Linked DNA regions of Homo sapiens: regions 2 and 3 are each linked to region 1. Evidence: fine-mapped expression QTL. A gene starts in region 1. Each other region holds a variant in brackets. All regions are shown on one strand. Distances are from middle to middle. Region 1 holds the start of LINC02981 (long intergenic non-protein coding RNA 2981). Region 2 overlaps LINC03007 (long intergenic non-protein coding RNA 3007). Region 3 overlaps LINC02981 (long intergenic non-protein coding RNA 2981).

Evidence for each region. PIP is the estimated chance that this variant, and not a neighbour inherited with it, causes the effect.
Region 2: its variant is fine-mapped to the expression of LINC02981 in esophagus mucosa (GTEx, PIP 0.97).
Region 3: its variant is fine-mapped to the expression of LINC02981 in spinal cord (GTEx, PIP above 0.99). The same link has a PIP of 0.9 or more in hippocampus and prefrontal cortex.

The regions. Positions count from the first base shown.
Region 1 is chr7:26,395,635-26,403,197 of GRCh38, forward strand. LINC02981 (long intergenic non-protein coding RNA 2981) reads left to right here and starts at 2,935. Exons shown (of 5, transcript NR_148502.1): 1 at 2,935-3,387. SNX10-AS1 (SNX10 antisense RNA 1) reads right to left here and starts at 3,784. Exons shown (of 2, transcript NR_136272.1): 1 at 3,707-3,784. RefSeq lists enhancers at 2,071-3,027, 2,102-2,341 and silencers at 2,812-3,271, 3,362-3,471.
Region 2 is chr7:25,729,011-25,736,573 of GRCh38, forward strand. The region is part of intron 1 of LINC03007 (long intergenic non-protein coding RNA 3007); the gene reads right to left. Among named protein-coding and RNA genes, the nearest start is that of LINC03007, 57 kb to the right of the region's middle. RefSeq lists enhancers at 3,712-4,378, 4,646-5,156. The variant C/G (reference allele first, on the strand shown) is at 3,879.
Region 3 is chr7:26,453,935-26,461,497 of GRCh38, forward strand. The region is part of intron 1 of LINC02981 (long intergenic non-protein coding RNA 2981); the gene reads left to right. Among named protein-coding and RNA genes, the nearest start is that of SNX10-AS1, 58 kb to the left of the region's middle. The variant C/T (reference allele first, on the strand shown) is at 3,924.

The DNA.
Region 1 (7,563 bases):
GACTAAAATTCAGCTTTTGTTTTGGCATTGCCTGTCCTGTCAATTCCCTGCTCTCCTGCACCGCTCCCCTTACCCTCAAAATAATTCAAGACTAAATCCTGATTAGTTATCAATTCTGATAATCTTGCCTCTCTTGCCAGTGGTAGTTTAGAGATAGTCACGTGCCCTGGTTCTGGCCAATGAGAAAAGATCTGAGGGATCTTTGGTATAATTTCTCCACTCTTAAAAAATTTGAGAACAGTCAACTTTTTTGGCTGGCCTTTGCCATGTCTTAAAGTGATGCCTGGAACTATGGCAGCCATTTTGAGACCTTGAGGAGAACTAGCTAAGGACAAGGTCAGCAAGCTGAGGATGGCAGAATTTCAGAAAGACGAGAAAAACTTGACAACATTAAACATTTTTGACCCACTAAATTAACCAAACTTAGCATCTGCTACCTTGGTACTTCCTACATGAGATACTACATTTTCTTCATTTTTAAAGCTACTACAGACAGGTTTTCTATTACTGAAATCAAAGTTATCCTAAGAAAAACAAGCAGCGTATGAAGCTTTATTTTATCACATCTGACAGAACAGCTCAGCCTTAAGTTGGGAGTAAGATTTATACAATTCTGCTGATAATATTTATTACTCATTTTAATTGTTTGCATGGTAATATTGAAGCCCCCCAACTGTTAGGAAATGTGCATTATTTTAACAATACTGGGTATCAGTAAATAAAATATGCTAAATATTGCTGAAAATAAACACTAAGTAACTCAATTTGTGTCATTATATGTGAGGAATGGGAAAAGCTTCTTGGAAGAGGTGATATTTAATCTGGACTTGGAAAGATCGGTGATATTTGAACAGTTGGACATGAAGTTCAAGGGCATTCTAGAGAATGTCATGGGAGAGGAAATGCAATAGCATGATTTGGGGATGTACTGTAGTAGACAAATAAGGCTGGAGCTGGGTTAGGTGCAGATTGTGGAGGGTCTTAAATGTCTTGCTAAGGGAGTGTGGAGTGCCTTTCCTCAGCAGTGGGGAACAGAGATATTTGAGTTAGTTACTGTGTATTGATTCCAGATAAACGAATAAAGCATATAGTATGTATATATTTTTTATAGTTTTTTTGGTATATTTTCATGAAAAGTGTGTATGATTTTAGTGAAACCATAAAAATCCATTTTCATTCCAATTTAGATTCTGTTTTAAAGTAGTTGCCAAGGAAACTAGTAAGTGACTGGTTATGCCCGATTTTCCCTAAGTTCAAAATTAGATGCAAATTCTTCAAAGAGACTACTTGAAGGCCAGTAAACATTTCAAAGGCAGTCAAGCTCAGACGCCTGGGTGTGTGGGTGCAGGAGGGTTAGAAGGGGGGTTCTGATGTTCCTGGAGGGAAGAGATGCCTTGCCTGTGTAGGCAAAGAGCTACTTTGAGGGAAAAAAGCTGAATGAGTTAGAGGTGAGTGCCCAGGAAGAGAAGCTGGAAGTGAGAGGTTCCACTGAAGTGCCTAGAAACAGACACTCTTTAATGGAGACAAGACCAAATTTCTGGAGTTTTCCTTTGTTTACATCTTTTTATCTTGTCTCGTTTCAAAAAGGAGTTAACTTTAAATATGTCCCTGAATAAACACGAGGCAGCATGACTCCATCGCAGGTAGAGATAGGACTAAAACATGATTCTCCTAAACTTTAACCCTGGAGTTAGCTCACTTAATCCTGTAAATCTCTGCAAAGACTAACTTTGTTCCCTGGCTCCTCCGTGGTTGCCAGGTGGTGGATATACATTCTACAACAGAAGAAACTGGAATCGCTAGAGGTGTCTTTTTTTAGGGCAAGGAAGCATTTCCCAGAAAACCCCAACAGATGTCCCCTGGCTTGGCCTTGGCCAGGACTGGTCACATGCTCTTTTCTAAGCCAGTGCCTGGGCAAGGGAAGGGGTTGGTCATAACGGATTTAGACTACTTAGGATTTACTTCTGGGCCAAGGAGAGGGAGGGGGTGAGGGAGGGGGTGAGGGAGGGGGTGAGGGAGGGGGTGAGGGTGGGGGCGGGGGGCTGGCCCGGCCTAAGATGGCTGGGGGTGATGCGTTCGGGGGACAAAGGAGTGCTGGACAGTTGTGTGAGCTGTAAGAAGGACCCGGAAAATACTGCAGAGTGATTGAGAGTGTAGAGGGGCCTGGGTTCTCACCTGTGCTCCCTCCCACCTTAGCTGGGTTATGCTGGGAACCTTTCAAGGCTTTGCTAAGCCTGGGTTTCCAGGAGTGCAATAAGATCGCTGTGATAAACATGTAGGTAAAGCAGTTGGCATAGTACCTTGCGTAGAATAGTCCTCAGCATATGTTTACTACTGTCGTTGTTGCTATTAATAAAAGTGACCTAGCTCCTCTCCTCGAGAAGTTCACAAGGGGCCCAAATGTGACAGGGGGAGCTATCAGAAGGCGGGAGGTGACTTCTTGCCAGGGAGCAAGCCAGGGCAAGAAGAGAGGCGCCGTGAAGCCTGCGTTCCCTCCCGCACGCGGCTTGCCTCGGTGGCCACACGGGGAGCTCAGCAAGGCCCAGGGTTCGGGAGGCGGGTCCTGCACAGCGACGCAGCCTTGTCCCGGTGGCCGCAGGCCTGGGGAGCAGGGCGCAGCACACCCGCCGCCCGCTTGCAGGCGAGACGAGAGCGGGGCGCCGGGATGCTGGCGTCCAATTTAACCACCAGGGCGCACGGGACGGAGGCCGGGGGTCCCGCTTTTCCGTCAGAGTTCGCGGTCACGAGTGGAACCCACTGAGCACTCTAGTTTCCTGGTATTTTCATGGCAGTAATTGGATGACAGAGTCAAGAGGCAGGGCCTGCGCCGACACTGACTAGCAACGCGCGGCCTCTGAGCCGCGCCCGGCCGCCCACCCCTTCCTCCTCCAGCACCGGGCCGGCTCCCCCTCCCGGCCCGGCTCGGCGGCTGGGGGGTGGGCGGAGCCGCGGCCGGGCAGTTCATTATGTTGGACAGGGCGCGTCTGCGCCTCCGGCCGCCGCGGCTCCCGGGGCCTCCGCCTGCAGCCGGCGGCGGAACGAGGGCAGGCGGCTGAGACAGGCGAGCTATTTGCATTCCCCGGCAGTCATTTTTATATGCGGAGGTAATGAAGTTGTCAGCGGCGCCCCGAGTGTGGCAGAGCCTGATATTCAAATCGCCCTGCCCGCTCCGCCTGCTCCCGCCCGCTGGTCCCGGGAGCCCCAGGCTGCGCGCGCCCGCACCGCATCGCCGCTTTGCCCCGCGACCGCGCGCGCCTCCTCGTCCTCCCCCGCGCCTTTGTTTCCGTCTCCTTCTCCTTTCCCTCCTCTTTTGTGTCGGGCCAGACTCAGCCCCAGAAACCAGCCACCCTGCCGCGTCCGACTGCCAGGGATCCCTCACGCCGCGAGGTGAGCTGGTCGCAGGTGTGGGGAAGTTCGCGGGTGCAGCTAGGCCGCCGCCCTCGCGCTCGACGCCACGCCCGCCTCCTCTTTCCTTCCCCAGGGGCCCCTTGCCCTCCCTTCACCTCCGTCTCCAAGAAAGATGACCTAGTACTGCCATTACCGTTTGGGCCTAGAGGAGTTTTCGTTCCTCTTTCCGAATGCATATTTGTGGTCATTTTTTATGATTGCAGAAACCCAACACACAGCTATTCTGTCAGGCTGCCGAGAAAAGGCTGTTCGGCAGTTGCAGCCCTGGTGAGGCAATGAGGAGGAAAGGTGGACGCACCTGCCTGGAGTGGTTGAAGGAAGGCAGTGAACATCCACGCTCCTGGGGTTGGTTTTCCTGAACCTCTGTAGCTGTGCTGCTCACTGGGGCAGCCACTGACCACAAGAGGCTGCCGAGGGCTTGCAGTGTGGCCAGGCCAGACCAGGATGTTCTCCAAGTGGGAAATACACACCCCATTGTAAAGAAGACTGTATGGAAAAAAGAATGTGAACTGGCTCATTCATCATTTAAAAACATTGATTGCATATTGAAATGATAATATTTTGGGTATATGGGGTGAAATAAAGTATCATGAATTAAATCTTTTTTTAAAAATGTGGCCACAAAGAACATTTAAATTTACACATGTGGTTCACATTATATCTCTGTGGGATCGCACTTAAGACCCAACCCCACCCATCCTCTAACTCTGCCCTCTCAGCTTGCTCTACAGGTACTTTGGAACAGGGCAGGGATGGAGGGAAGGTCCTTGTATCTTAGGGATCAAATGCCCAGGAAAATAATTAGGAGGTGTTTGGGATTATGCTGAAAACCCTGACAACACTGAATAGCAGATGTCTCTTTCTTTTCCCTTTGTTCACTGTAAAGAAAAACTTACACTCCCCCACAGCCATGCCACAATTCCATGGACCAACCATTCATGTGTGAAGGTGGGCCTCTAGGAGTGTTTTGTGCCTTTTAGGAGTTATTTGTGGCACACTAAACTTGCTGACATGCCATTTAGAAAAGTGAATACTGTGTACGCACTGTAACAACTATTCCATAAGTATTTTTGGTGTACACTGTTCCTCAGCACTCACAGGCTTCGGAGTAGGGGCTCCCGGAGTATGCATTGACACGATGCGCTGCAAATGATCCGGGCGTGGGGAAGTCCCCGAGTGTGCATTGATTCCACACACGGCCACGGCTCCTACAGGGCTTTTATGGTGCAGCTCGCCAATGATCCGTGTGTTAAAGACTCCCCAAATACACATTGACACGATAGACTGGAGTTGTTTGGGTCTATCGTGGCAATGATCCGGGGATAATGGCAGTGTCTTATACAATTTCACTGAGATTGGAGTGCTCATGGTCCTAATGGCAGAACCGGAACTGCCCCAGTTAAGTCCCACCATGGCGCCCAGTAAAGGGTGTGTGGGTCTTTGACCTTCTGCTTCATGACACTGTGGCATTGCTAATTTTACTGATATTTTAACTAACATAATTGAGTTAGCATTTTTTTCCCCCTGAAAATTCATTTTTGTAATTCAACACCTGAATTAGGGAGTCCATCTAGTGATGGTTTCATTTGGTTAATCATAAGCTAAAGACCTAGGAAAGGTCATTCTTAAACCTAAAGTGTTTTGGGAAAAATAATCGTGGGAGATGCATATGAGCTTGAGACAGAGTTAATATGGAATAAATAACCTCAGTCCTGAGAAAACCTAGTTGGCTAGGCTGAAATAGACAAGATGAGAAGGTGGGAAGAAGATGTTTTTAAAAATAATGAAAGTAACATATTCAATAAAAATAATTCAAACACTGTAGAAGTGTATGAAATAAAAAACAGAATCCTCCCACTCCTTCCTTCCTTCTTTCTATACCATTCACTGTTACAAGCACTATTAATATTTTTGTATATTCTTCCAGTAACTTAAAAACACATGCAAATATATACAGTCATGCATCTCTTAATGATGGGAATATGTTCTGAGAAATGCATCGTTAGGCGATTTCATCATTGCACGAATATCAGAGAATGTACTTATACAAACCTAGATGGTGTAGCCTACTACCCACCTAGGCTATATGGTATAGCCTATTGCTCCTAGGCTACAAACCTGTACAGCATGGTACTGTAACAGAATACTGAAGGCAATTGGCCAGGCACTGTGGCTCACGCCTGTAAATCCCTGCACTTTGGGAGGCCAAGGCTGGCCTTCAAGACCAGCCTGGCTAACATGGTGAAACCCTGTTTTTACTAAAAACCCCAAAATTAGCTGGGCTTGATGGCATACACGTGTAGTTCCAGCTACTCAGGAGGCTGAAGCAGGAGAATCACTTGAATCTGGGAGGTAAAGTTTGCAGTGAGCAGAGATCATGCCACTGCACTCCAGCCTGGGCAACACAGCAAGACTCCATCTCAAAAAAAAAAAAACAACACTGTAGGCAACTGTAACACAATGGTGAGTACTTATGTATCTAAATGTAGAAAAGGTACAGCAAAAATACAGTATAAATGGTAAAAAAAGAAAAAATACAACTGTATAGGGCACTTACCATGAATGGAGTTTGCAGGTCTAGAAGTTGCTCGGGTGAGTGGAGTGAGTGGCGAGTAAATGTGAGGGTCTAGGACATTGTGTATACTAGTGTAGGCTTTATAAACACCGTACACTTAGGCTACACTAAATTTATATTTAAAAAGGTAATTGCTCTACAACATTGTGATGGCTATATTGCCACTAGGCTATAGGAATTTTTCAGCTCCATATTAATCTTATGGGTCCACTGTTGTATATTTGGTCCATTGTTGACCGAAATGTCATTATGTGGTGCATGACTGTATATCTACTCTTTGTTTACACAAATGGGTTAATGCTGAATGTTAATCTTCAACATCTTATATTTTCAATTAATAATACAGTCATGTGCCCCATAATGATGTTTTGATCAGCAATGGACTGCATATACGATAGTGGCCCTGTAAGATTACCGTGGAGCTGAAAAATTCCTATCGCCTGGTGATGTCTTAGCCCTTGTAACATCTTAATGCAACACATTAGTTGTGTGCTTGTGGTGGTGTCAGTGTAAACAAACCTACTGCGTTGCCAGTTATTTAAAAGTATACCACATACCACAGTATGCCACATTATCAAGTACATAATCCTAGATAATAACAATAAACAACTGTTACTAGTTTATGCATTTACTATACTATTTATTATTATTTTAGACTACTTTCTACACATGCATACACACATATTTATACACACATATATGTATAAAAGTTAACTATAAAACAGCCACAGGCAGGTCCTTCAGAAGGATTCTAGAAGAAGGAATTTTAATAGAGGAGATGGGGGTGGGCACGGTGGCTCACACCTGTAATCCCAGCACTTTGAGATGTCAAGGTGGGTGGATGACCTGAGGTCAGGAGTTCGAGACCAGCCTGGCCAACATGGTGAAACTCTATCTCTACTAAAAATACAAAAATTAGCTGGGTGTGGTGGCAGGCACCTGTAATCCCAGCTACTTGGGAGGCTGAGGCAGAAGAATCGCTTGAACCCAGGAGGCAGAGGTTGCGGTGAGTGGAGATCATGCCATTGCACTCCAGCCTGGGTGATAAGAGCAAAAAAAAAAAAAAAAAAAAAATGAGATGGCAGTTCTATGCACTGATGACCTTACAATGGGACAAGATGTGGGGATGGAAGACAGTGATATTAATGATCCTGATCCTGTGTAGGCCTAGGCTAATGTATCTGTTTGTGTCTTAGTTTTCAACAAAATATTTAAAAATTAAAAACAATAAAAAATAAAAATTTTAAAAATAGAGAACAGCTGATATAAATAAGGATAAAAAGGAATTAAATAATTTTGTACAGCTATACAATCTGTGTTTTAAGGTACGTATTATTACAAAAGAATCAAAAGGTTAAAAAAATTAAAAATTTTATAAAGTAAAAAGTTATAGTAAGCTAAGTTTATTATTGAAGAAAGAAAATAATTAATAAATTTAGTGTGGCCTAAGTATACAGAGTTTATTTATTATTTTCACTTTTTATTTTTTTGAGATGGGGTCTTTCTATGTTACCCAGGCTGGATTAGAACTCCTGGGCTCAAGTGATCCTCCTGCCTCAGCCTCTTGAGTAGCTGGGATT
Region 2 (7,563 bases), 670 kb before region 1:
ACCATTAAAATTTTGTTGTATTTTTGGCACGCATATTCTTTGTAGCCTTTACTTGTGTGTGTGTGTGTGTGTGTGTGTGTGTGTAAAAGGGGATGATTATATTGTTGATTTTAGTTTTGACTTAGGAAAAATTGCATATACAACTTTGTATCCTTCTTGTCATTTAGTATGGTAACCCACCAAGCATTTGCTGCATTACCATACCCTTTCCATAAATAATAATTTTTAATGGCTGCAAAATAAGGGATGCATTTTTGAAAGTAAAGTTCTTTTTTAAATTTTTTTAAACAAAAATTTCTAACTCTAATAGATCCTGGAGAAGATAAATGTATAAAACCAAAATTAAATGTAAGTTCTCTGAGAGCAAAGACTTCTGTCTCTTTTTATTCTCTGCAGTAACCTTGGTGCTTAGACTACTGCCTGGCCCATGATAGGTGTCCTCTAATGAATAAGAATAAAATCAGAGGAACATGAGGCCTCTAGGACTCCAGCTTCCAATGTAGCACTGTGCCCTGGTTTGCTATGAACTCATTCTACAGAATGATTGACAAGTAGCCTGCTTTCTCTATGTTTTTATTTTCTCCACGGTCTTTTGCTAAGACACAAGTACAAGTAAACACATGATTCATCAAAATATCAATTGATTTTTAAAAGCACCTGTTTCCCATTTAAACCTTCACAACCATGTTTTGAAAACTGTGGGGAAATCTGAAACTGTCTCAAAATCTTTTTAGAGTTCTTTAGAAATTTTTTTTAATGCCAGTTGTAAAGTCATGTCCATGTCAGTGATTCTCTGATCCCCAAATATCTAAACCTGTTGGAAACTGTGCAAACAGATAATAATAGGACCTCATTTAAAGCAAAAGTAAATTATAAAAAATCCATTACTTTGTTTAGCCAACAGCTTTGATACCCAAGAAAACACATCGAGACTTTGCCCTGTCCTGGAAGCATTTGGGTAAAGTGCTGGCGAATGTGATATCTAATTAGATTCTAGGGTCTCATCACCAAGAACTAGGGGAAAGATCAGGAGTTCAACCCAAGAAACCAGTTCATGGAAAATATCAAATAACAGTTGGGCAATGCTGAGAGGCTATTTACTGAAATGCTCATACCTAGTGAAAAGACCTCCTGGGCAAAAACTTTTTTTTCTAATCTAGGAACAACTATTGAATTTGCTTTTTGCATTATACTGAATAATTCTTCTTTTTTTTTTTTTTTTTTTTTTTTTGGAGACAGAGTCTTGCTCTGTCGCCAGGCTGGAGTGCAGTGGCATGATCTCAGCTCACTGCAACCTCCACCTCCTGAGTTCAAGCAATTCTCCTGCCTCAGCCTCCCCAGTAGCTGGGACTACAGCTACGTGCCACCACACCCAGCTAAGTTTTGTATTTTTAGTAGAGACGGGGTTTGACCATGTTGGCCAGGATGGTCTCGATCTCTTGACCTCATGATCCACCCACCTCAGCCTCCCGAAGTGCTGGGATTATAGGCATGAGCCACCGCGCCCGGCCTATACTGAATAATTCTTAGTATATTACATTAACGTATTGCCATAATTTGGTTTTGCCCTTCTGAAACCTAAAGATATAATATATGCCTCTGTAAATGCCCACAGAACTACTGTGTGAGCAAAATTTGACTTTGAAAACAATTATAATGTGGGCAAGAAAAATGTTAAAATCTTTAAACATTATCAGGCCAATATATAGCTTGTTATATGAGTTCCAGCACAGGCAGCCCAAAGAAATAAGGAGAGATGTGCATTGCCACTTTCTCCCATCTCTCCCAGCCTACAAAATGGGCTTCAGATGACAGAGGAAGTGTCTGAGGCAACGGCAAATGTGGATAACAGGTTGGAAGATGGAACTACCAAGGGAAAGAAGGCTAAAGGAAGTGGGGAGATTCAATGAGATAAAGAGGAGATAGAGAACTTTTTGGATTTTAAAAATTAATCTTCAATTACGTGAAAGGATGTTTGTGCAAAATGGTGACCCACTTTTTTCCATCTCTACTGGGGCAGATCAAAAGAAAATGGACTTAAACTGAGGCCGAGTGGTTTAGGTAAGACAGAAGAAGGAATTTCCTGAATGTGGAGGTCGTTAAAAACTAGAATGAGTTACTAAGGAAGTCTGTGGACACTCTTCCTCTGGGGAACATTTAAAAATAAGATAAATTTTCATCTGTCAGGGCGAGTTTAGAAGTAATCCTACTAGAAGGCCTCTCAAAGCATTTTCCAGCCCTATAACCTGAGGGCCAAATTCCCTCTGATTTTATTTCTAAAGTTAACTAGATGCGAGATGAATGCCTGAAGCAGAATTCCAGATTTTAGATACAGTAACTCGAGGCTGTCACCTTTTGTTCTATAATAAGATGCCACTTTGCATAAAAACTAAAGTCCTAATCCTTCCTGGAAACCACAGCAAGGAAAAAATTCACAACTCAAAACTTGGCAAATTAACTCTTGCTCAGACACCTTCACTCTCATCCTTAAAAATACAAAATACCATCTCCTCCTCTACACTGTTTTTTGTTCCCTTATGCCTATGGAGCACGTCTTTCCAGTTCTTAATTTTATTTTTCCCAGACAGCCATTCCGAATATTCCATTTTTACAGCTAGTCAGTTTCTTTAAACAGTCTTTTGAAACCTAACCAAATACTTTCCCAGCAATTATTTGGCGATGTTTCAATCTTAGATATACCAAGCTAAAAAACAAGTTTGCATTTTGAACAGCTGTACTCAGACACATTCCTTTCTCTTCATCTTCTTCTGAGTTTTAATCAAGCCAATCGGGGGCTTTCATTACACCTCCCAGGATGGAATAACCTGACATGGTGAATATTGATATAACACCCTCCCTTATAATTGATCAGCTTTGTTTCAGTTCCATGGTTTTCTTTTCTTTTAAAAGCTTCGGGTCTCCTTTGTTTCAGGTTAAATCAGGAACATTAAAAGCAACTGATATCTAAAGCCTCCTCCAGGTCACTGCTGCCTCCTCCTCCTCATTCTTAGCCTAAGGTTTTTTTGTTGTTTTTTTCTTTTTTCTTTAGCTTCTCCATCCTCCTACTCACCCCTCACCCCAAGGCATTTGTCAAAGGTTTCCTCTGACTTCTCCAACCCTTTTCTCCAGTGTGAACTCTGGATTCAAGTGTGAGGAAAGGAAATCTGGCTTAGGTAAGGAAAGGGGAGACCATCCAGGGTAAAGGGAAAAGAAAGGGGTTTCAGTCGCAGCGATCGCTGGCCAGACACTTCCTAACAGTTACCTCTCAAGGACAGCAAGAAAAGTCCTTGAAAATCTCATCTGGGCACATGGATGGCAGGATGGGGCACAAAGAGCTATGTGGGCTCCTAGAGAGACAAGGTGAACTTATTCCTCAGTTAGGAATCCAAATAAATCATAATGCTTAAACTATTCGTGAAATCATCAAGTATCTACAGATTTTTTTCCAGTTCTAAATGAAAGTAGCCAAATGATGGTCATTAAAATGAAAGAAAATCATCCTTATTTTTACTTCTGTACAAGCTTCTCGAAGAACTTCAAGTCTTAGTGGAGATGGGGTGAGGAGCTAGTGACAGGGCTCTGATGAGTGGAGAACACCAGGTTCTTCATCTCGAGTAGAATTAGAAAAAATGAAACGGACACACATGGAGTAGTTTTAAGGAGCAGAGAGTTTAATAGACAAGAAAGAAGGGGGAAGAAAGAAAGAAGAAGCTTCCCTGTACAGAGACAGAGGGAGGGAGGGCTCCAAAGCTGAGAGGGAACCCTGCTATCAACTAGCTATATTCGATGGCTGGAGGAGGCGGTGTCTGATTTGCATGGGGCTCAGGGGATTGGTTTGACAAGGCATGTCATTCACGTAGACCGTGAAAAAACTGGCT[C/G]TCTCACCCTAGTCTTTTAACATGCAAATGTAGGGCGCCATGATGTTCCACACACCTGGGGATATGTGGGGGCAACCATGCTGCTAGGCACATGTGGGGGCAAGGGTAAGAGGGCAACGGTGGGAATCGCCATGTTGGGTGGACCCAGTTTCTAACGCCTTGCATTTGCATATTAAAGGTTGCCAGCCGGCCATGTTGGGTGGATCCAGTTTCTAACGGTTTGCATTTGCATATCAAAGGTTGCCAGCTGGGGTCTAAGAGTCAGGATTCTCTTTCATGCTAGACAAGAGCCGCGAAAAATCTTCCAAGGACCCCTTTTTTCCTCTCTATCTGCCTAAAATAATTTCTTAGTAACTCCTACCACACTAGATCGTCTTAGTCTTTACACTGAGAAAAGTAAAAGAGGTGTGTTCTCTTTTTGTACAAATGGGGAAAGCCAGGAATAGAGTGATGACATATTTTACCCAGAGTGACATAAGTAATCACAAGGTTCTCTGCATCTATATTACTATATGCTTTGCCAGAATGCCCTGTTAGGATGAAATTTATTTATATAGTTAAATAGTTAATAACTACATAAAGGAAGGAGAGAGGAAAAATAAAAACTAAATATATATATGTGTGCACAAAAAGATATTAAATTGAGCTTATGAATAATATATTTCAATAATACATTACTAATTATTTAACATGAGGAGAGGAGCTGATTAGTAGTAGTCAGTCTTCTTGGCCATAGTCAGTTTCATCAACCTCTTCAGTTCTGAAACCCCAAGGCTCTCCCAAGGTTTACCTGGGGAGATAACCACAGCCCCTGTCCTCTTCAGGCAACTCGGAGTTCAACTTTCCTTTCTCAGAAAGAGAGATAGCAACATCTCAAGAGATAGAGCTAGAGAAAAGTCACAGAAGCATCTATGAATTGGTTCCCCATCAAGGACACCCAGACACACAACCCACTCAGAGACAAACCGTTCTGGAATACTTCATGTTGGAGTGGTTAGCCCTGCTCTGTGAACTGGTAATCCAGTCCTTTGTGGAGCCATCTCTGGGCTAATTGTCTCTTTGTTTCTTGAAGGTTGAGAGATTATCTTCAGCAAAATTCCTCCGTTTAACCCCTGGACTTCCTTACCCCAATTCATCCAACCACCACTCTCATTTGCAGATGAGAATCTTCATTTGCACACATGGCCTTGGCCTTTGCCTCAACCCTTTCCCTAAGACAGCTAGCTGGTTCTATCTTGCTCTCTCTCCTTCGTTTTTGGTGCAGATCAACAGCAGAGCCAACCTTGGACAGGACAGGACGAATCCACACTTCCAACTCACAGAAGCATGGAACCCAGTTAGGGAGAGTCTCCCAAAGCCTTAAGGTACCACAGGGCACCATGTCCTCTGCCAAAACTTTTGGAAACAGGGCTGGTTCTACTGCAGCAGAACAGATCACCCTTTGAACAAAAAGCTCCAAAACTTACAAGAAAGAGAAGATGAAAGCTGCAGCTCTCTTCTTTGAATTATATATTATCTATGCCTAGAATGCCCAGAGGGGTCATGAATTTAGAGAACTCAACAACAACAAAAAGTCAATATCTGACACCTTGTGTTTCTAAAACTCATTACAGCTCTGGGAATGAAAGTATAGGAAGAAAAAAAAAAACAGTGAATAAATTATTTAGAAGAGGAAATGTTTGGATTATTTTCTTGCGTTTTCTTGAGCTTTTCCCAATAGTTTCAGAACTGGTGGAAAGAGAAGGAGTTCTGTCTCCTAAATTATCTCTTGAATTCAAATTTTCTCTGGTCTGGGATTGGAAGGATCCTTCATACTTTTATAAACTGGACTGAAAAATACAGAAGCCCCCAATCTTAACCCTTTCTTCTCTTTCTAAAATATCCTAAGGAAAAGCAATAAGAGATTTAAATCCCATATCATCTGAGAAAGGGACTGGGTTTTTTTCCCAAATCAACCTTTCCAATTAATGAAGCCCCTATTCCTTATACTGAATTGGGGAAATGTCTTGTGAAAAAGTTGCTGACCCTCCTCTGATACCTGGAACCCTACTACAGAGTCTCAGATTTGACTCAGAGAAGGTTCCAGAGGTGTGTCTGCGTTGTGCTGTATTGCACTGAGCTGGTGCCTGACATTTTAGATGCTCAGTGAACATGTGGCTCTAACTCAGTCACTGCAAACTCCTTAAGATGTCTTGCTCATCTCAATGGCCACAGTAGGTAAACATTCAATAAAGCCTGATTGACTAAACAAATAAATAAATGAGCAATCATGTCTAAATCACTAAGGGAGAGGTTTGCCCCCTCCTTCCCCACTCCCATCCTCCAGATCGATCTTTTCTGAGAATCACTGCTTGTCCGTTTTCGTCCCCTAAGACATTTTAGTAATCAAAGGAATGTACCCTATTCCAAGAGTCCTACACATTCTGTTTCTTATTTCATCTGAGAAAGAATTTACTGAAGAGTCCTCTCCACCACATGTGGATTGAATTTCCATTCTCTTCTCCCCATTTCCACCTTTCTTTTTATTTCTGTCTCCATCAGAGCAGAGCATTCAATATGCTGCAGAAATAATTTTCTGCTGAATGAGGTTCGGCCATAAGTCAAGGGCAGATTTATTAAGGCCCCTGCACAGCCTGTTCCTCGGCTTACTGTCGACATGACAGTTTAAATCTTTGATCACCCTTACACGTAACCCCTTCACTGCTGAACAGCCCAGATCTACAAGATGAGCAGCTCCTCCTGGTACTTGAGATGAGTTGAAAATGGTTCTAAATCCAAGCAGACAGGGCATCTTCACCAGGACCCAGGGGTGTCCAGTGTGTTCAGGGATTTTCAAGGTACAGTGAGGCATGGCTTAATGACAGGGACATCTTCTGGGAAATGCATTGCTAGACGATTTCATCATCGTGTGAACATCATAGCGTGTACTTACACAGACCTAGATGGTAGAGCCTACCACACACCCAACCTATATGCTATAGCCTATTGCTCCCATGCTACAAACGTGTAGAGCATGTTACTGTACTGAATACTGTAGGCGATTGTAACACAGTAGTAAGGATTTGTGTATCTAAACATATCCAAACCCAGAAAAGGTAATGCATTTTGTGCTAGGACCTTATGGCAGCTATGATGTCATTAGACAATAGGAATTTTCCAGCTCCATTATAGTTTTGTCGGCACACTGTCATAAGTGTGGTCTGTGGTTGACCGGAACACAGCTATGCAGCACGTGACTGTATCCCTCCTCCCATGCTCACTTCTCTTTTCTACCTGCTTCTGCTTCCAGGCAGGAACTTCATCATCTCCACTGCTGTGCTGTGGGAAAACTCCACTGCAGCTTCTGTTCCCAGAATAGCTGTTTTATCTAGTGAGTTCACTGGCTGTTCTGTGAGAGACTATTATTTCTGTGTTCTGTTTCTGTTTTTAGTAATTTTACCTTTCTGTGGCAAACACCTGGCATCACATAAACCAGTGTTTTAAAACCCATGAACCAGTCGGCTAGTAAGGTTGTATGGGTGCTATGACAATTACTTTTACATGTAATTTGATGTTGTATATTGCATTTGAGGTACTTTGGTTGCCACTACATACACCCACACCCACACACACACACACACACACTTCACAAAACAGTGCTAGAAGCTGCTATTAAGAATATTAAAATGCTTGCACAAACTTGAAG
Region 3 (7,563 bases), 58 kb after region 1:
GGAGGCTGAGGCAGGAGGATCACTTGAGCTCAGGAGCTTGAGGTTGCAGTGAGCTAAGATAGAAGCACTGTGCTCTAGCTGGGTAATAGAGTAGAACCTTGTTTCTAAAAACAAACAAACAAACAAAGAACAAATCTGAACAAAACTAGACTGGACTGAGGGGGCCAGTGCCTTTTCCAGCTTACTTTCTTCTATGTATCCTGCACTTAGACCCAGATTTGCCAATAAATGAAAGAGAGAACATGCAGGATTATGCAAGAAATGTACAACATCGGATATTTTCAGTGACTTTTGTCAAAATTGAGATACCGTCCTTGACTTTAAATTTCCTAAGTTCCTAAGTAGAGACTAAAATCTTTACAGATGTATTAAAACAATACACATATCACAAGCCCTACCATTTCCTGAGTTTGGCCAGATTGTGGGAAAATGTTTTGAGTCTACTTGAGTCATCAGGAAAGTGGCAGATGAGCTTCCTGTGGGCAAGAATAAGTCAATGCACTCAGGGAAAAATACTCTTAAAATCAGGACACATGGTTGATGAGGTTGACAATAGAAGGAATTATTTAAGATTGAGGCCTTGTTGGAAAATCCAGGAGGCATCCTTGCTGGACTCGCAGGCTGAGGGTTCTGAGTTATTGGTTATGACTGAATTTATAAGAGTGGGAATGGGCTGTGGAGGCTGATTCCTGACCGGCCTGTGGGCTGCTGCCTTGGCAAGGGTCATCTTTGTGCTATTCCTTGCCATCATCGTTAGCAGCTGCAGCAGCTTTGGAGTCCACATGTAGACAAAACTTTACAGTCTAGAAAACATGTTAACATTCACAATCTCATTTGATTCTCAGATACAGGAATAGAGAAAAGATACTTTTCTTATAGCATCACATCAATAAGAGACACATAAGTTATTAACAAAATACAGCAAATTGAGTCCAGCAATAGATGGGATTTATCCCAAGAATATAAGATTCTTTAAACATTTGAAATTTAATTACTATCATTTAATAAGTTACAGAATATGGGGAACATATGTAATCATCTAAATATGTAGAGAAAATGCACTTGGCAAAACTCAACACTCTCAGTAAACCAGGACTAGATGGGGATTTCTTCAACCTGTTATGAGGTCAGCTATGAAAAATCTACAGGTAACATATTTAGTGGTAAAATGTTAAACTCTTTTCCCATAAGAGTGGGATAAGGCAAGGGTGTTGACTCTTACCACTTCTATTCAACATTGTACTGGAGGTCTTAGCTAGTGCAATAAGGCAAGAAAAAAAGGGCCCACAGATTGGAAAGGAAGAAGTAAAGCTATCACTATTTGTAGATTGCATGACTATCTACACATTATTGCCATTATGAAGATAAGGAAAGTGAGGCTCAGAGAGATGAAGTGATTTACCTGAGGTCACGCAGGTATAAAGGATGGCGCTAGCACTCAAACTTGGATCCCCTGACTCCAAACCCTGGAATAAAAAGAGGGACTATTTCATTCACTTAAACCTAAAGTAAAGTTTCAGTTATGCTTCTTAAAGAAGATCCAGTGGCACTGGACATTTTCCAGAGCAAATCAACTAAAATGAAAGTGGGAATGCAGAAGGCTTATCAGTGTGGGACAGACTAACTGGCTAGGCTCTTTAGTCTGAGCACAGTGAAGTGTGGACAATATGGGACTAGGGTGACCGTGGATCCATTCACCAGCTCCTGAGATGGCAAAACTGTTGACCTCGGTAAGGTCAGGACTGGTAAAAATACTTTCTCACAGTAACTTCAATATACTTAAGAAACTCATTGTCAAGAGATGATGCAGGATAGAAAAGGTTTAGAAAAAAAGATGTTGAGAGATTCATAACTAGGCTGACCATATCATTCATCATCATAACTGATTTGACAGAAAGAGGGTCCTATTAGTAATTGCCCTAGGTCAACAGGCATAAAGACTGTCCTGGGCAAATTAGGACATTTGGTCCCCCAGCCTATAATAGATATAAAGGAAACTGGCATGTTTGGGTGGTGGGGGGTGGAGAGGCACATCGATAACATTAGTGAACATCTGTTCAGGCACTGGCCAGGCAAGTCATGGTGAATGTCTTAGGGCCTGGAACCCCTACTAGGAGAGTCAGATCTTTGTTGCCCCTTCAGGTGTTCCTGGCCCTTGCTGCTAATTATAATAAATAAGAACAGTAGCGACCATTTGTTGAGCACTTACTACACACCAGGCACTGAGAAGTGCTTTATGTGAAAAATTTCATTCAACAATCCTAGAAGGAAGGCACTATTCCTCTCTCCATTTTACAAGTGAGGAAACAGAATCTCAGAGAGGTTGAGTAACTTTCCCAAGGTCACTCAGCTGGAAAGTATTGGAGCTGAGAGTTGAACCCAGACTCTCAACCATGATGTTAACCAGTCTTTACCTTTTCTCTTTTGGGTTGCAGGCCATTTCAAGGACCCAGGTGTCTGGCATAGGATGAGTGTATGGTTAGACAGCACCAGAGTGGAAATAGGGGAACATCAGTGGCATCCCAGCCTCCATGTCAGCCTTGAGCCCACACTAAGAGACACACAGAAGCATAGAGTGACTGCTGGTGACTGCTCAGAGTAGACATGACCCTGGTTTTTGGCCCAGAGCAGCACCAGCTTCCAGAGCAAATCATGGAGTGAATTATCCAACAGCTTTGTTTTGTTTATTATTGCATTGTTTTGCTGTGTGGACAGACAGGAATCTTGACCCTCCAGATACCTGGGTAATGTTCCTATAACCACCCAGGTCATTTTTGGGTCAGGCAGCCCACATTCAATTCTTTTCATCTTTTTCCATCAGTCAATCCTTAATTATTTTTATTGCTTTTCTCTGAACTCTCATCAATTTGCTGGCATATCACTTTTCGGGTGGTGAGATACCAGAAGTGTTCTTCAGAGAAATTATAATCTCCTGTGCATGATGTAATGCTTTGGCTTAGGCAGTTGAAAATCACAGCAGCAATTTCAGCTGCTATTGGTATCATAACCCGCGATCAATTTGGTCGTCTCCAATTAACTTGACTTTTTTTTTCAGTGAAGGTAAGTACATGGCTCAAAGTCAATATAATTTATATCTGAACTATTCCAAGGATATGTATATATGTATGTGTGTGTGTATTAAAAGCAAAAAAAAAATGAAGCAAGTTCAGGAAGCAAAAAAGAATGTCTGGTCTTTGCTCATTACTGATCACCCCCGATGTGCCAGACCCCAGCTGCTAACTAAGCTCAAGAAGAATCTTATCTTGAAATGTTTAGGACATTTTAAACATTTTCTTCATTAAAAATTACTCTTGTTTTCCTTGACACCCTTTAATGATTACATTTTTACTCTCATGTTCCTATTTGTAGATTGAGAGCTTTCTCTTCTAGTAACAGTGACCCACTGTGACTCAGGTTATAACTATCTGTGGCTTGATTATTTTGAAGTTAATTATGCTTTGGCATGAATAATTACATTAAGCAGGTTATATTAGAATACTCACCATGTAATATTCTTTTCTCATAAGTAAAAATGGAAGACTGAGTTAACTTGGAGTTGAAAGAAATTAATTTGAACAATTTGCCGTCCCTCAGATTTAAGCCACTTTGGTTACTTCTTTTTTCCAAGTTGACTCATTTTTTTCAAGTCTATTTGTCTTTAGAGCAGCTCTCTTTTCTTTTCTTTTCTTTTGTTTTTCTTTCTTTCTTTATTTCTTTTTTAACCTTGTATTATTTGCACAAAGATGGCGGTGTGAGTATTAGTTCCAAAATGATGGCATTGTCTCATGACAATCACAGATGCAGTTTTAAAGTTCTGGTATTTAGCACGTAATAAAAAACACCAGGAACACACAGCTTCTCTGTGAGGGATGGCTCACTGGTGTACAGAGTTGAATCACACAGAGCTGGATCTGGTCACCCAT[C/T]GTTTCTTGTCCAGATAGTGGCTTTGAAATGGCCTCTCAGAAAGTCAGAGATGACCTCAGGCCTGTCCACAGCTCCAGCAGCTGTTTCCTGCCTCCCAGCCATCTCATGATGGGATGCAGATCTAGTTGATGTTTTCAGCCCGCACGGATCACTTCCTTTTGTAATTTAGACCCATGAAGGCCTTCTCAAATGGTTTTGTTCACGGTGTAAGAAGTCATTTTCTTCCAAGAATCTACCTATGTTTCAGAGTTGGCCTCATTTTCTGCAAGGTCAGCTTTACCTGGGGGTGGCAGAGAGATGATTCAGGATGTGGATTTCATTAGTGCATTTTGTTTAAAAATGAATACAGATCACGTTCTTTGATGTGTGTCTTTAGTTGAAAACACCACCACCACCACCGTCACCAAATGCTACCCTAAAAACTTCTCTGTAAAGTCATGACAATATCCTCTTCTTGCAACTCCCCTGACTTTGTGTCTTTCTGTAATATACAGTATAATTTATAAAAGTGTGAGCAACTGTGGAATTGTTCTCCTAATAGATTCTGAAGATTCCAATTTCCATTCTGCCACACAAGACTGAAAATCCACTTGTGCTCACTTATCTGTATCTGTACCTCATCCCCACGCTGCATCAAAAATCAGGTTCAGGTGCAGGTTAAGAGCACGCATTTACCTCCAGAATATGGGACTTATTAAATATCTCTCCACAATTAACATCACCGTATCAATAAGAATTATCATTAGGTCCTGTCAATCAGGTGCTGAATTTTGCTTCAGGGAAACAAAACAATTTAAATTATAGCAAGTGCTCCCCTTCTTTTTTACTTGCTTCTCTTTAAATTGGATAATTATGTGGCTTTTCATTAGATTCCTCTAAGCATAATAGATCACGATATTCACCCTTTGACCTTGGTGATGAATGTCTCTGGTGAAAACATGTGACAAGCAGTGTTCTAATGAGAACAAAATACTGGATAACTGGAAATCTTGTATAATGAAAGGAGGAAGCAGGAGGGAAACATAACCTTTAAGGTTGATGCACAAAATATATTTGTAATGAGGCAATAATATGGGCTGGGGAGAAAAGGGGCTAGTTTTGTTTCTAATAATGTGGATGGAAATGATGATTTTTCTCCTTTGGAATGTGAAAAACAATGGAGAAACAGACATTTCAGGAAAGCTGTGCATCAGAAAATTCTGATCTCAACTGAATTGTAAGCACAGATGGAATGAATCTGCTGGCCTAAGTGGGGATTCAAATGACTCGCTGCGACTTGGAACACCTGCACATGGCAGTGTGAGGGTACCTCTCATTTTATTGCTTTCTTTATGGGAGTTCCAAATGTAAGGACAGCTTAAAAAGGAAACAATTTGGTCTCAGGGGATCTATAATTGTATTGGGGCTGTCAAGAAAGGACAAGGGAGGCAATGGGACACCCCCAGTACTTTCCAACCTCCCTCTCTTGGTTAGTCCCTGAACAACCTGCCTTGTTGGAGCTGGGACACCACCTACATCTTCAAAGTCCTCTTTCTGTGGTGTGAAGAGAGGTTGGGGCATCCTAAAGGTGGCCCTGAAATGTAGCCGGAGGTCAGGGAAAAGCCAATGACCTCTAGCTTCTTCTTCTTGGTTCCTCTCCCAACCCCCTGCACACCTGGATTTCCTGGATGGCTACTTATTGGGCTGACCCAGGCACAGCTTTGCTCCTTGTGGTGATGGATGGGGGATTTCCCATCAAATCAGCCCTTGGTACTGTGATTTGCTCTGGAGTTATGGAGACAGGTAGTTTGCTTCTTTTAGATTTCTTAGATGCTTCTCTGTCCATTTAGGATATACAGCACAAGGGTAGCCCATTGTAAAGCCATTCATCAAGGGTATGGATTTGCTGTATCATCTAAGGACATGGGTTTGTGGCAGGAGCTACTTGTTAAATGCACAGGCTAGGCTGTGCTTGTTTTAGAGTGGAAGAAAGAGAGCTGGAAACCACCACTTATTCGGCACCCATTTTGTGCCAAGCACTCGCCCAGGCTCTTGATACATGCTCTCTGATTGAATTCTTCCATCAAACCTTAGCCTACTTTATGATTTGGAAAATGGCCCAACCTGACTCAGAATGACCTGACAGCAAAGCTGGGGTTTAATTGCAGGTTGGCCTGACTCCTAAGAACATGTTCTGTAGGTTAAAGGTAGCACAGAATGTAACACTTTTACCGTCTCCCAAGAACCATGCCTTTACTGTAACGTTATCCCCAGCTTACCTTTCCAGGTCTTGATGGAATCGATTTGGATTATTTGGACTTAATATTATTACCATCAATCTTGCTAGTTGTACAGTTTATTTTGTTTAACAGAAGACATGCAAGAGAAGAAACAGCTGCCTCTATAAGTTGATTTCTTCCGGTGAATTCCAGTTTGGAGGAAGAATTTGCAGGGAATGATGTATGTGCTTACAAAGGATTAAGAAACTAACCAGGCTCAAAACCATGGTTCCCTTTGTTTATCTGCAGATCTGTCCTGTTTAAGGTAAAATTCACCCTGGGCCCTCGCCCCTGACCTCCACCAGGTGACTTTTCATGGAGACATTCTCACTGCCAGCAATCCTTCAACTCTTTCCACAGAAGTCTGCCAGGAAGAGAAATGTCCAAAGTCCATTTTGAGCTCTCAGCCTGGGATTTAGCTGCAATTTTTCATGGACACTGGGCAATTACTGGCATACGAAGCCAAGGAGAAGCAAGAGAGGGAAGGCCCTGCTTCTCTAGTGAGATCATCATCTTTGCATCAGTCACTGTTAGAGACATCTCTGGTTTCTGTTCCCAGCCTAACTGCACAGAAAAGAGATATTCTAGCTTCTCCCTAGTTACGCATATGTGGAGAAAACTGAAAAAGATGGGTAATCATGGTTGTTGTAAGTACTTGGGGGCTCCAGAAGGTGTCCCTAAGAACTCCATAAAGAGGGGCTGTTGTTTCTCTGAGATTTAAACCTTTAGCACAAAATGGATCACAGTGCAGCTGCTGGAAGTCATCCGAAGGAGCTGAAAATTTTCCAAGCCCACACCCTCAATTGCAACTTGTTTGAGCAATTTTATTAGCAAATCTAAAGAAATAATGCTTTGATCAGAAAGGAGAGGGTTTACTCAGCATGGAAGCAGGACAAAAAAAGGGACTCAAAGGCAAATGTTAGCAGGGACTGCCCAAACCTTGTCCAAAAGAGAAGGAGCTGAAGTCAATCGACGGGTAATTTCTAGGCCTCTTGAAAGATGCATCTCCAATACGGTGTCAGAAATCATAGATATCACAAGTCTGTAATCAACAGATTTCAAGGATTCAGGTCCCCTTTGGGAAGAACATCCCATCCTATCATGGTGCCACTTAAACACTTAGTTTTCCTGTCTCAATTCAATGTTCACCAAACCTTGTCTTCAGGTTGCCTTGTTGCTGCTGAACATTTGCCAACAGAAAGTAGACAGGATGCTGACACTGTTGTAGACCATCTCTGATAGTGATTTCTTATTAAAAATGTCAATGCTGTGTTTTGATCTTATACATACATGCTGTGCTTCTGAGGTGTACCCATGAAAAGCTGGGCCAATTCTTACCAGTTGTCACCCTGCTGACAAGTGCAGGGTGCCGAGCCTTTGA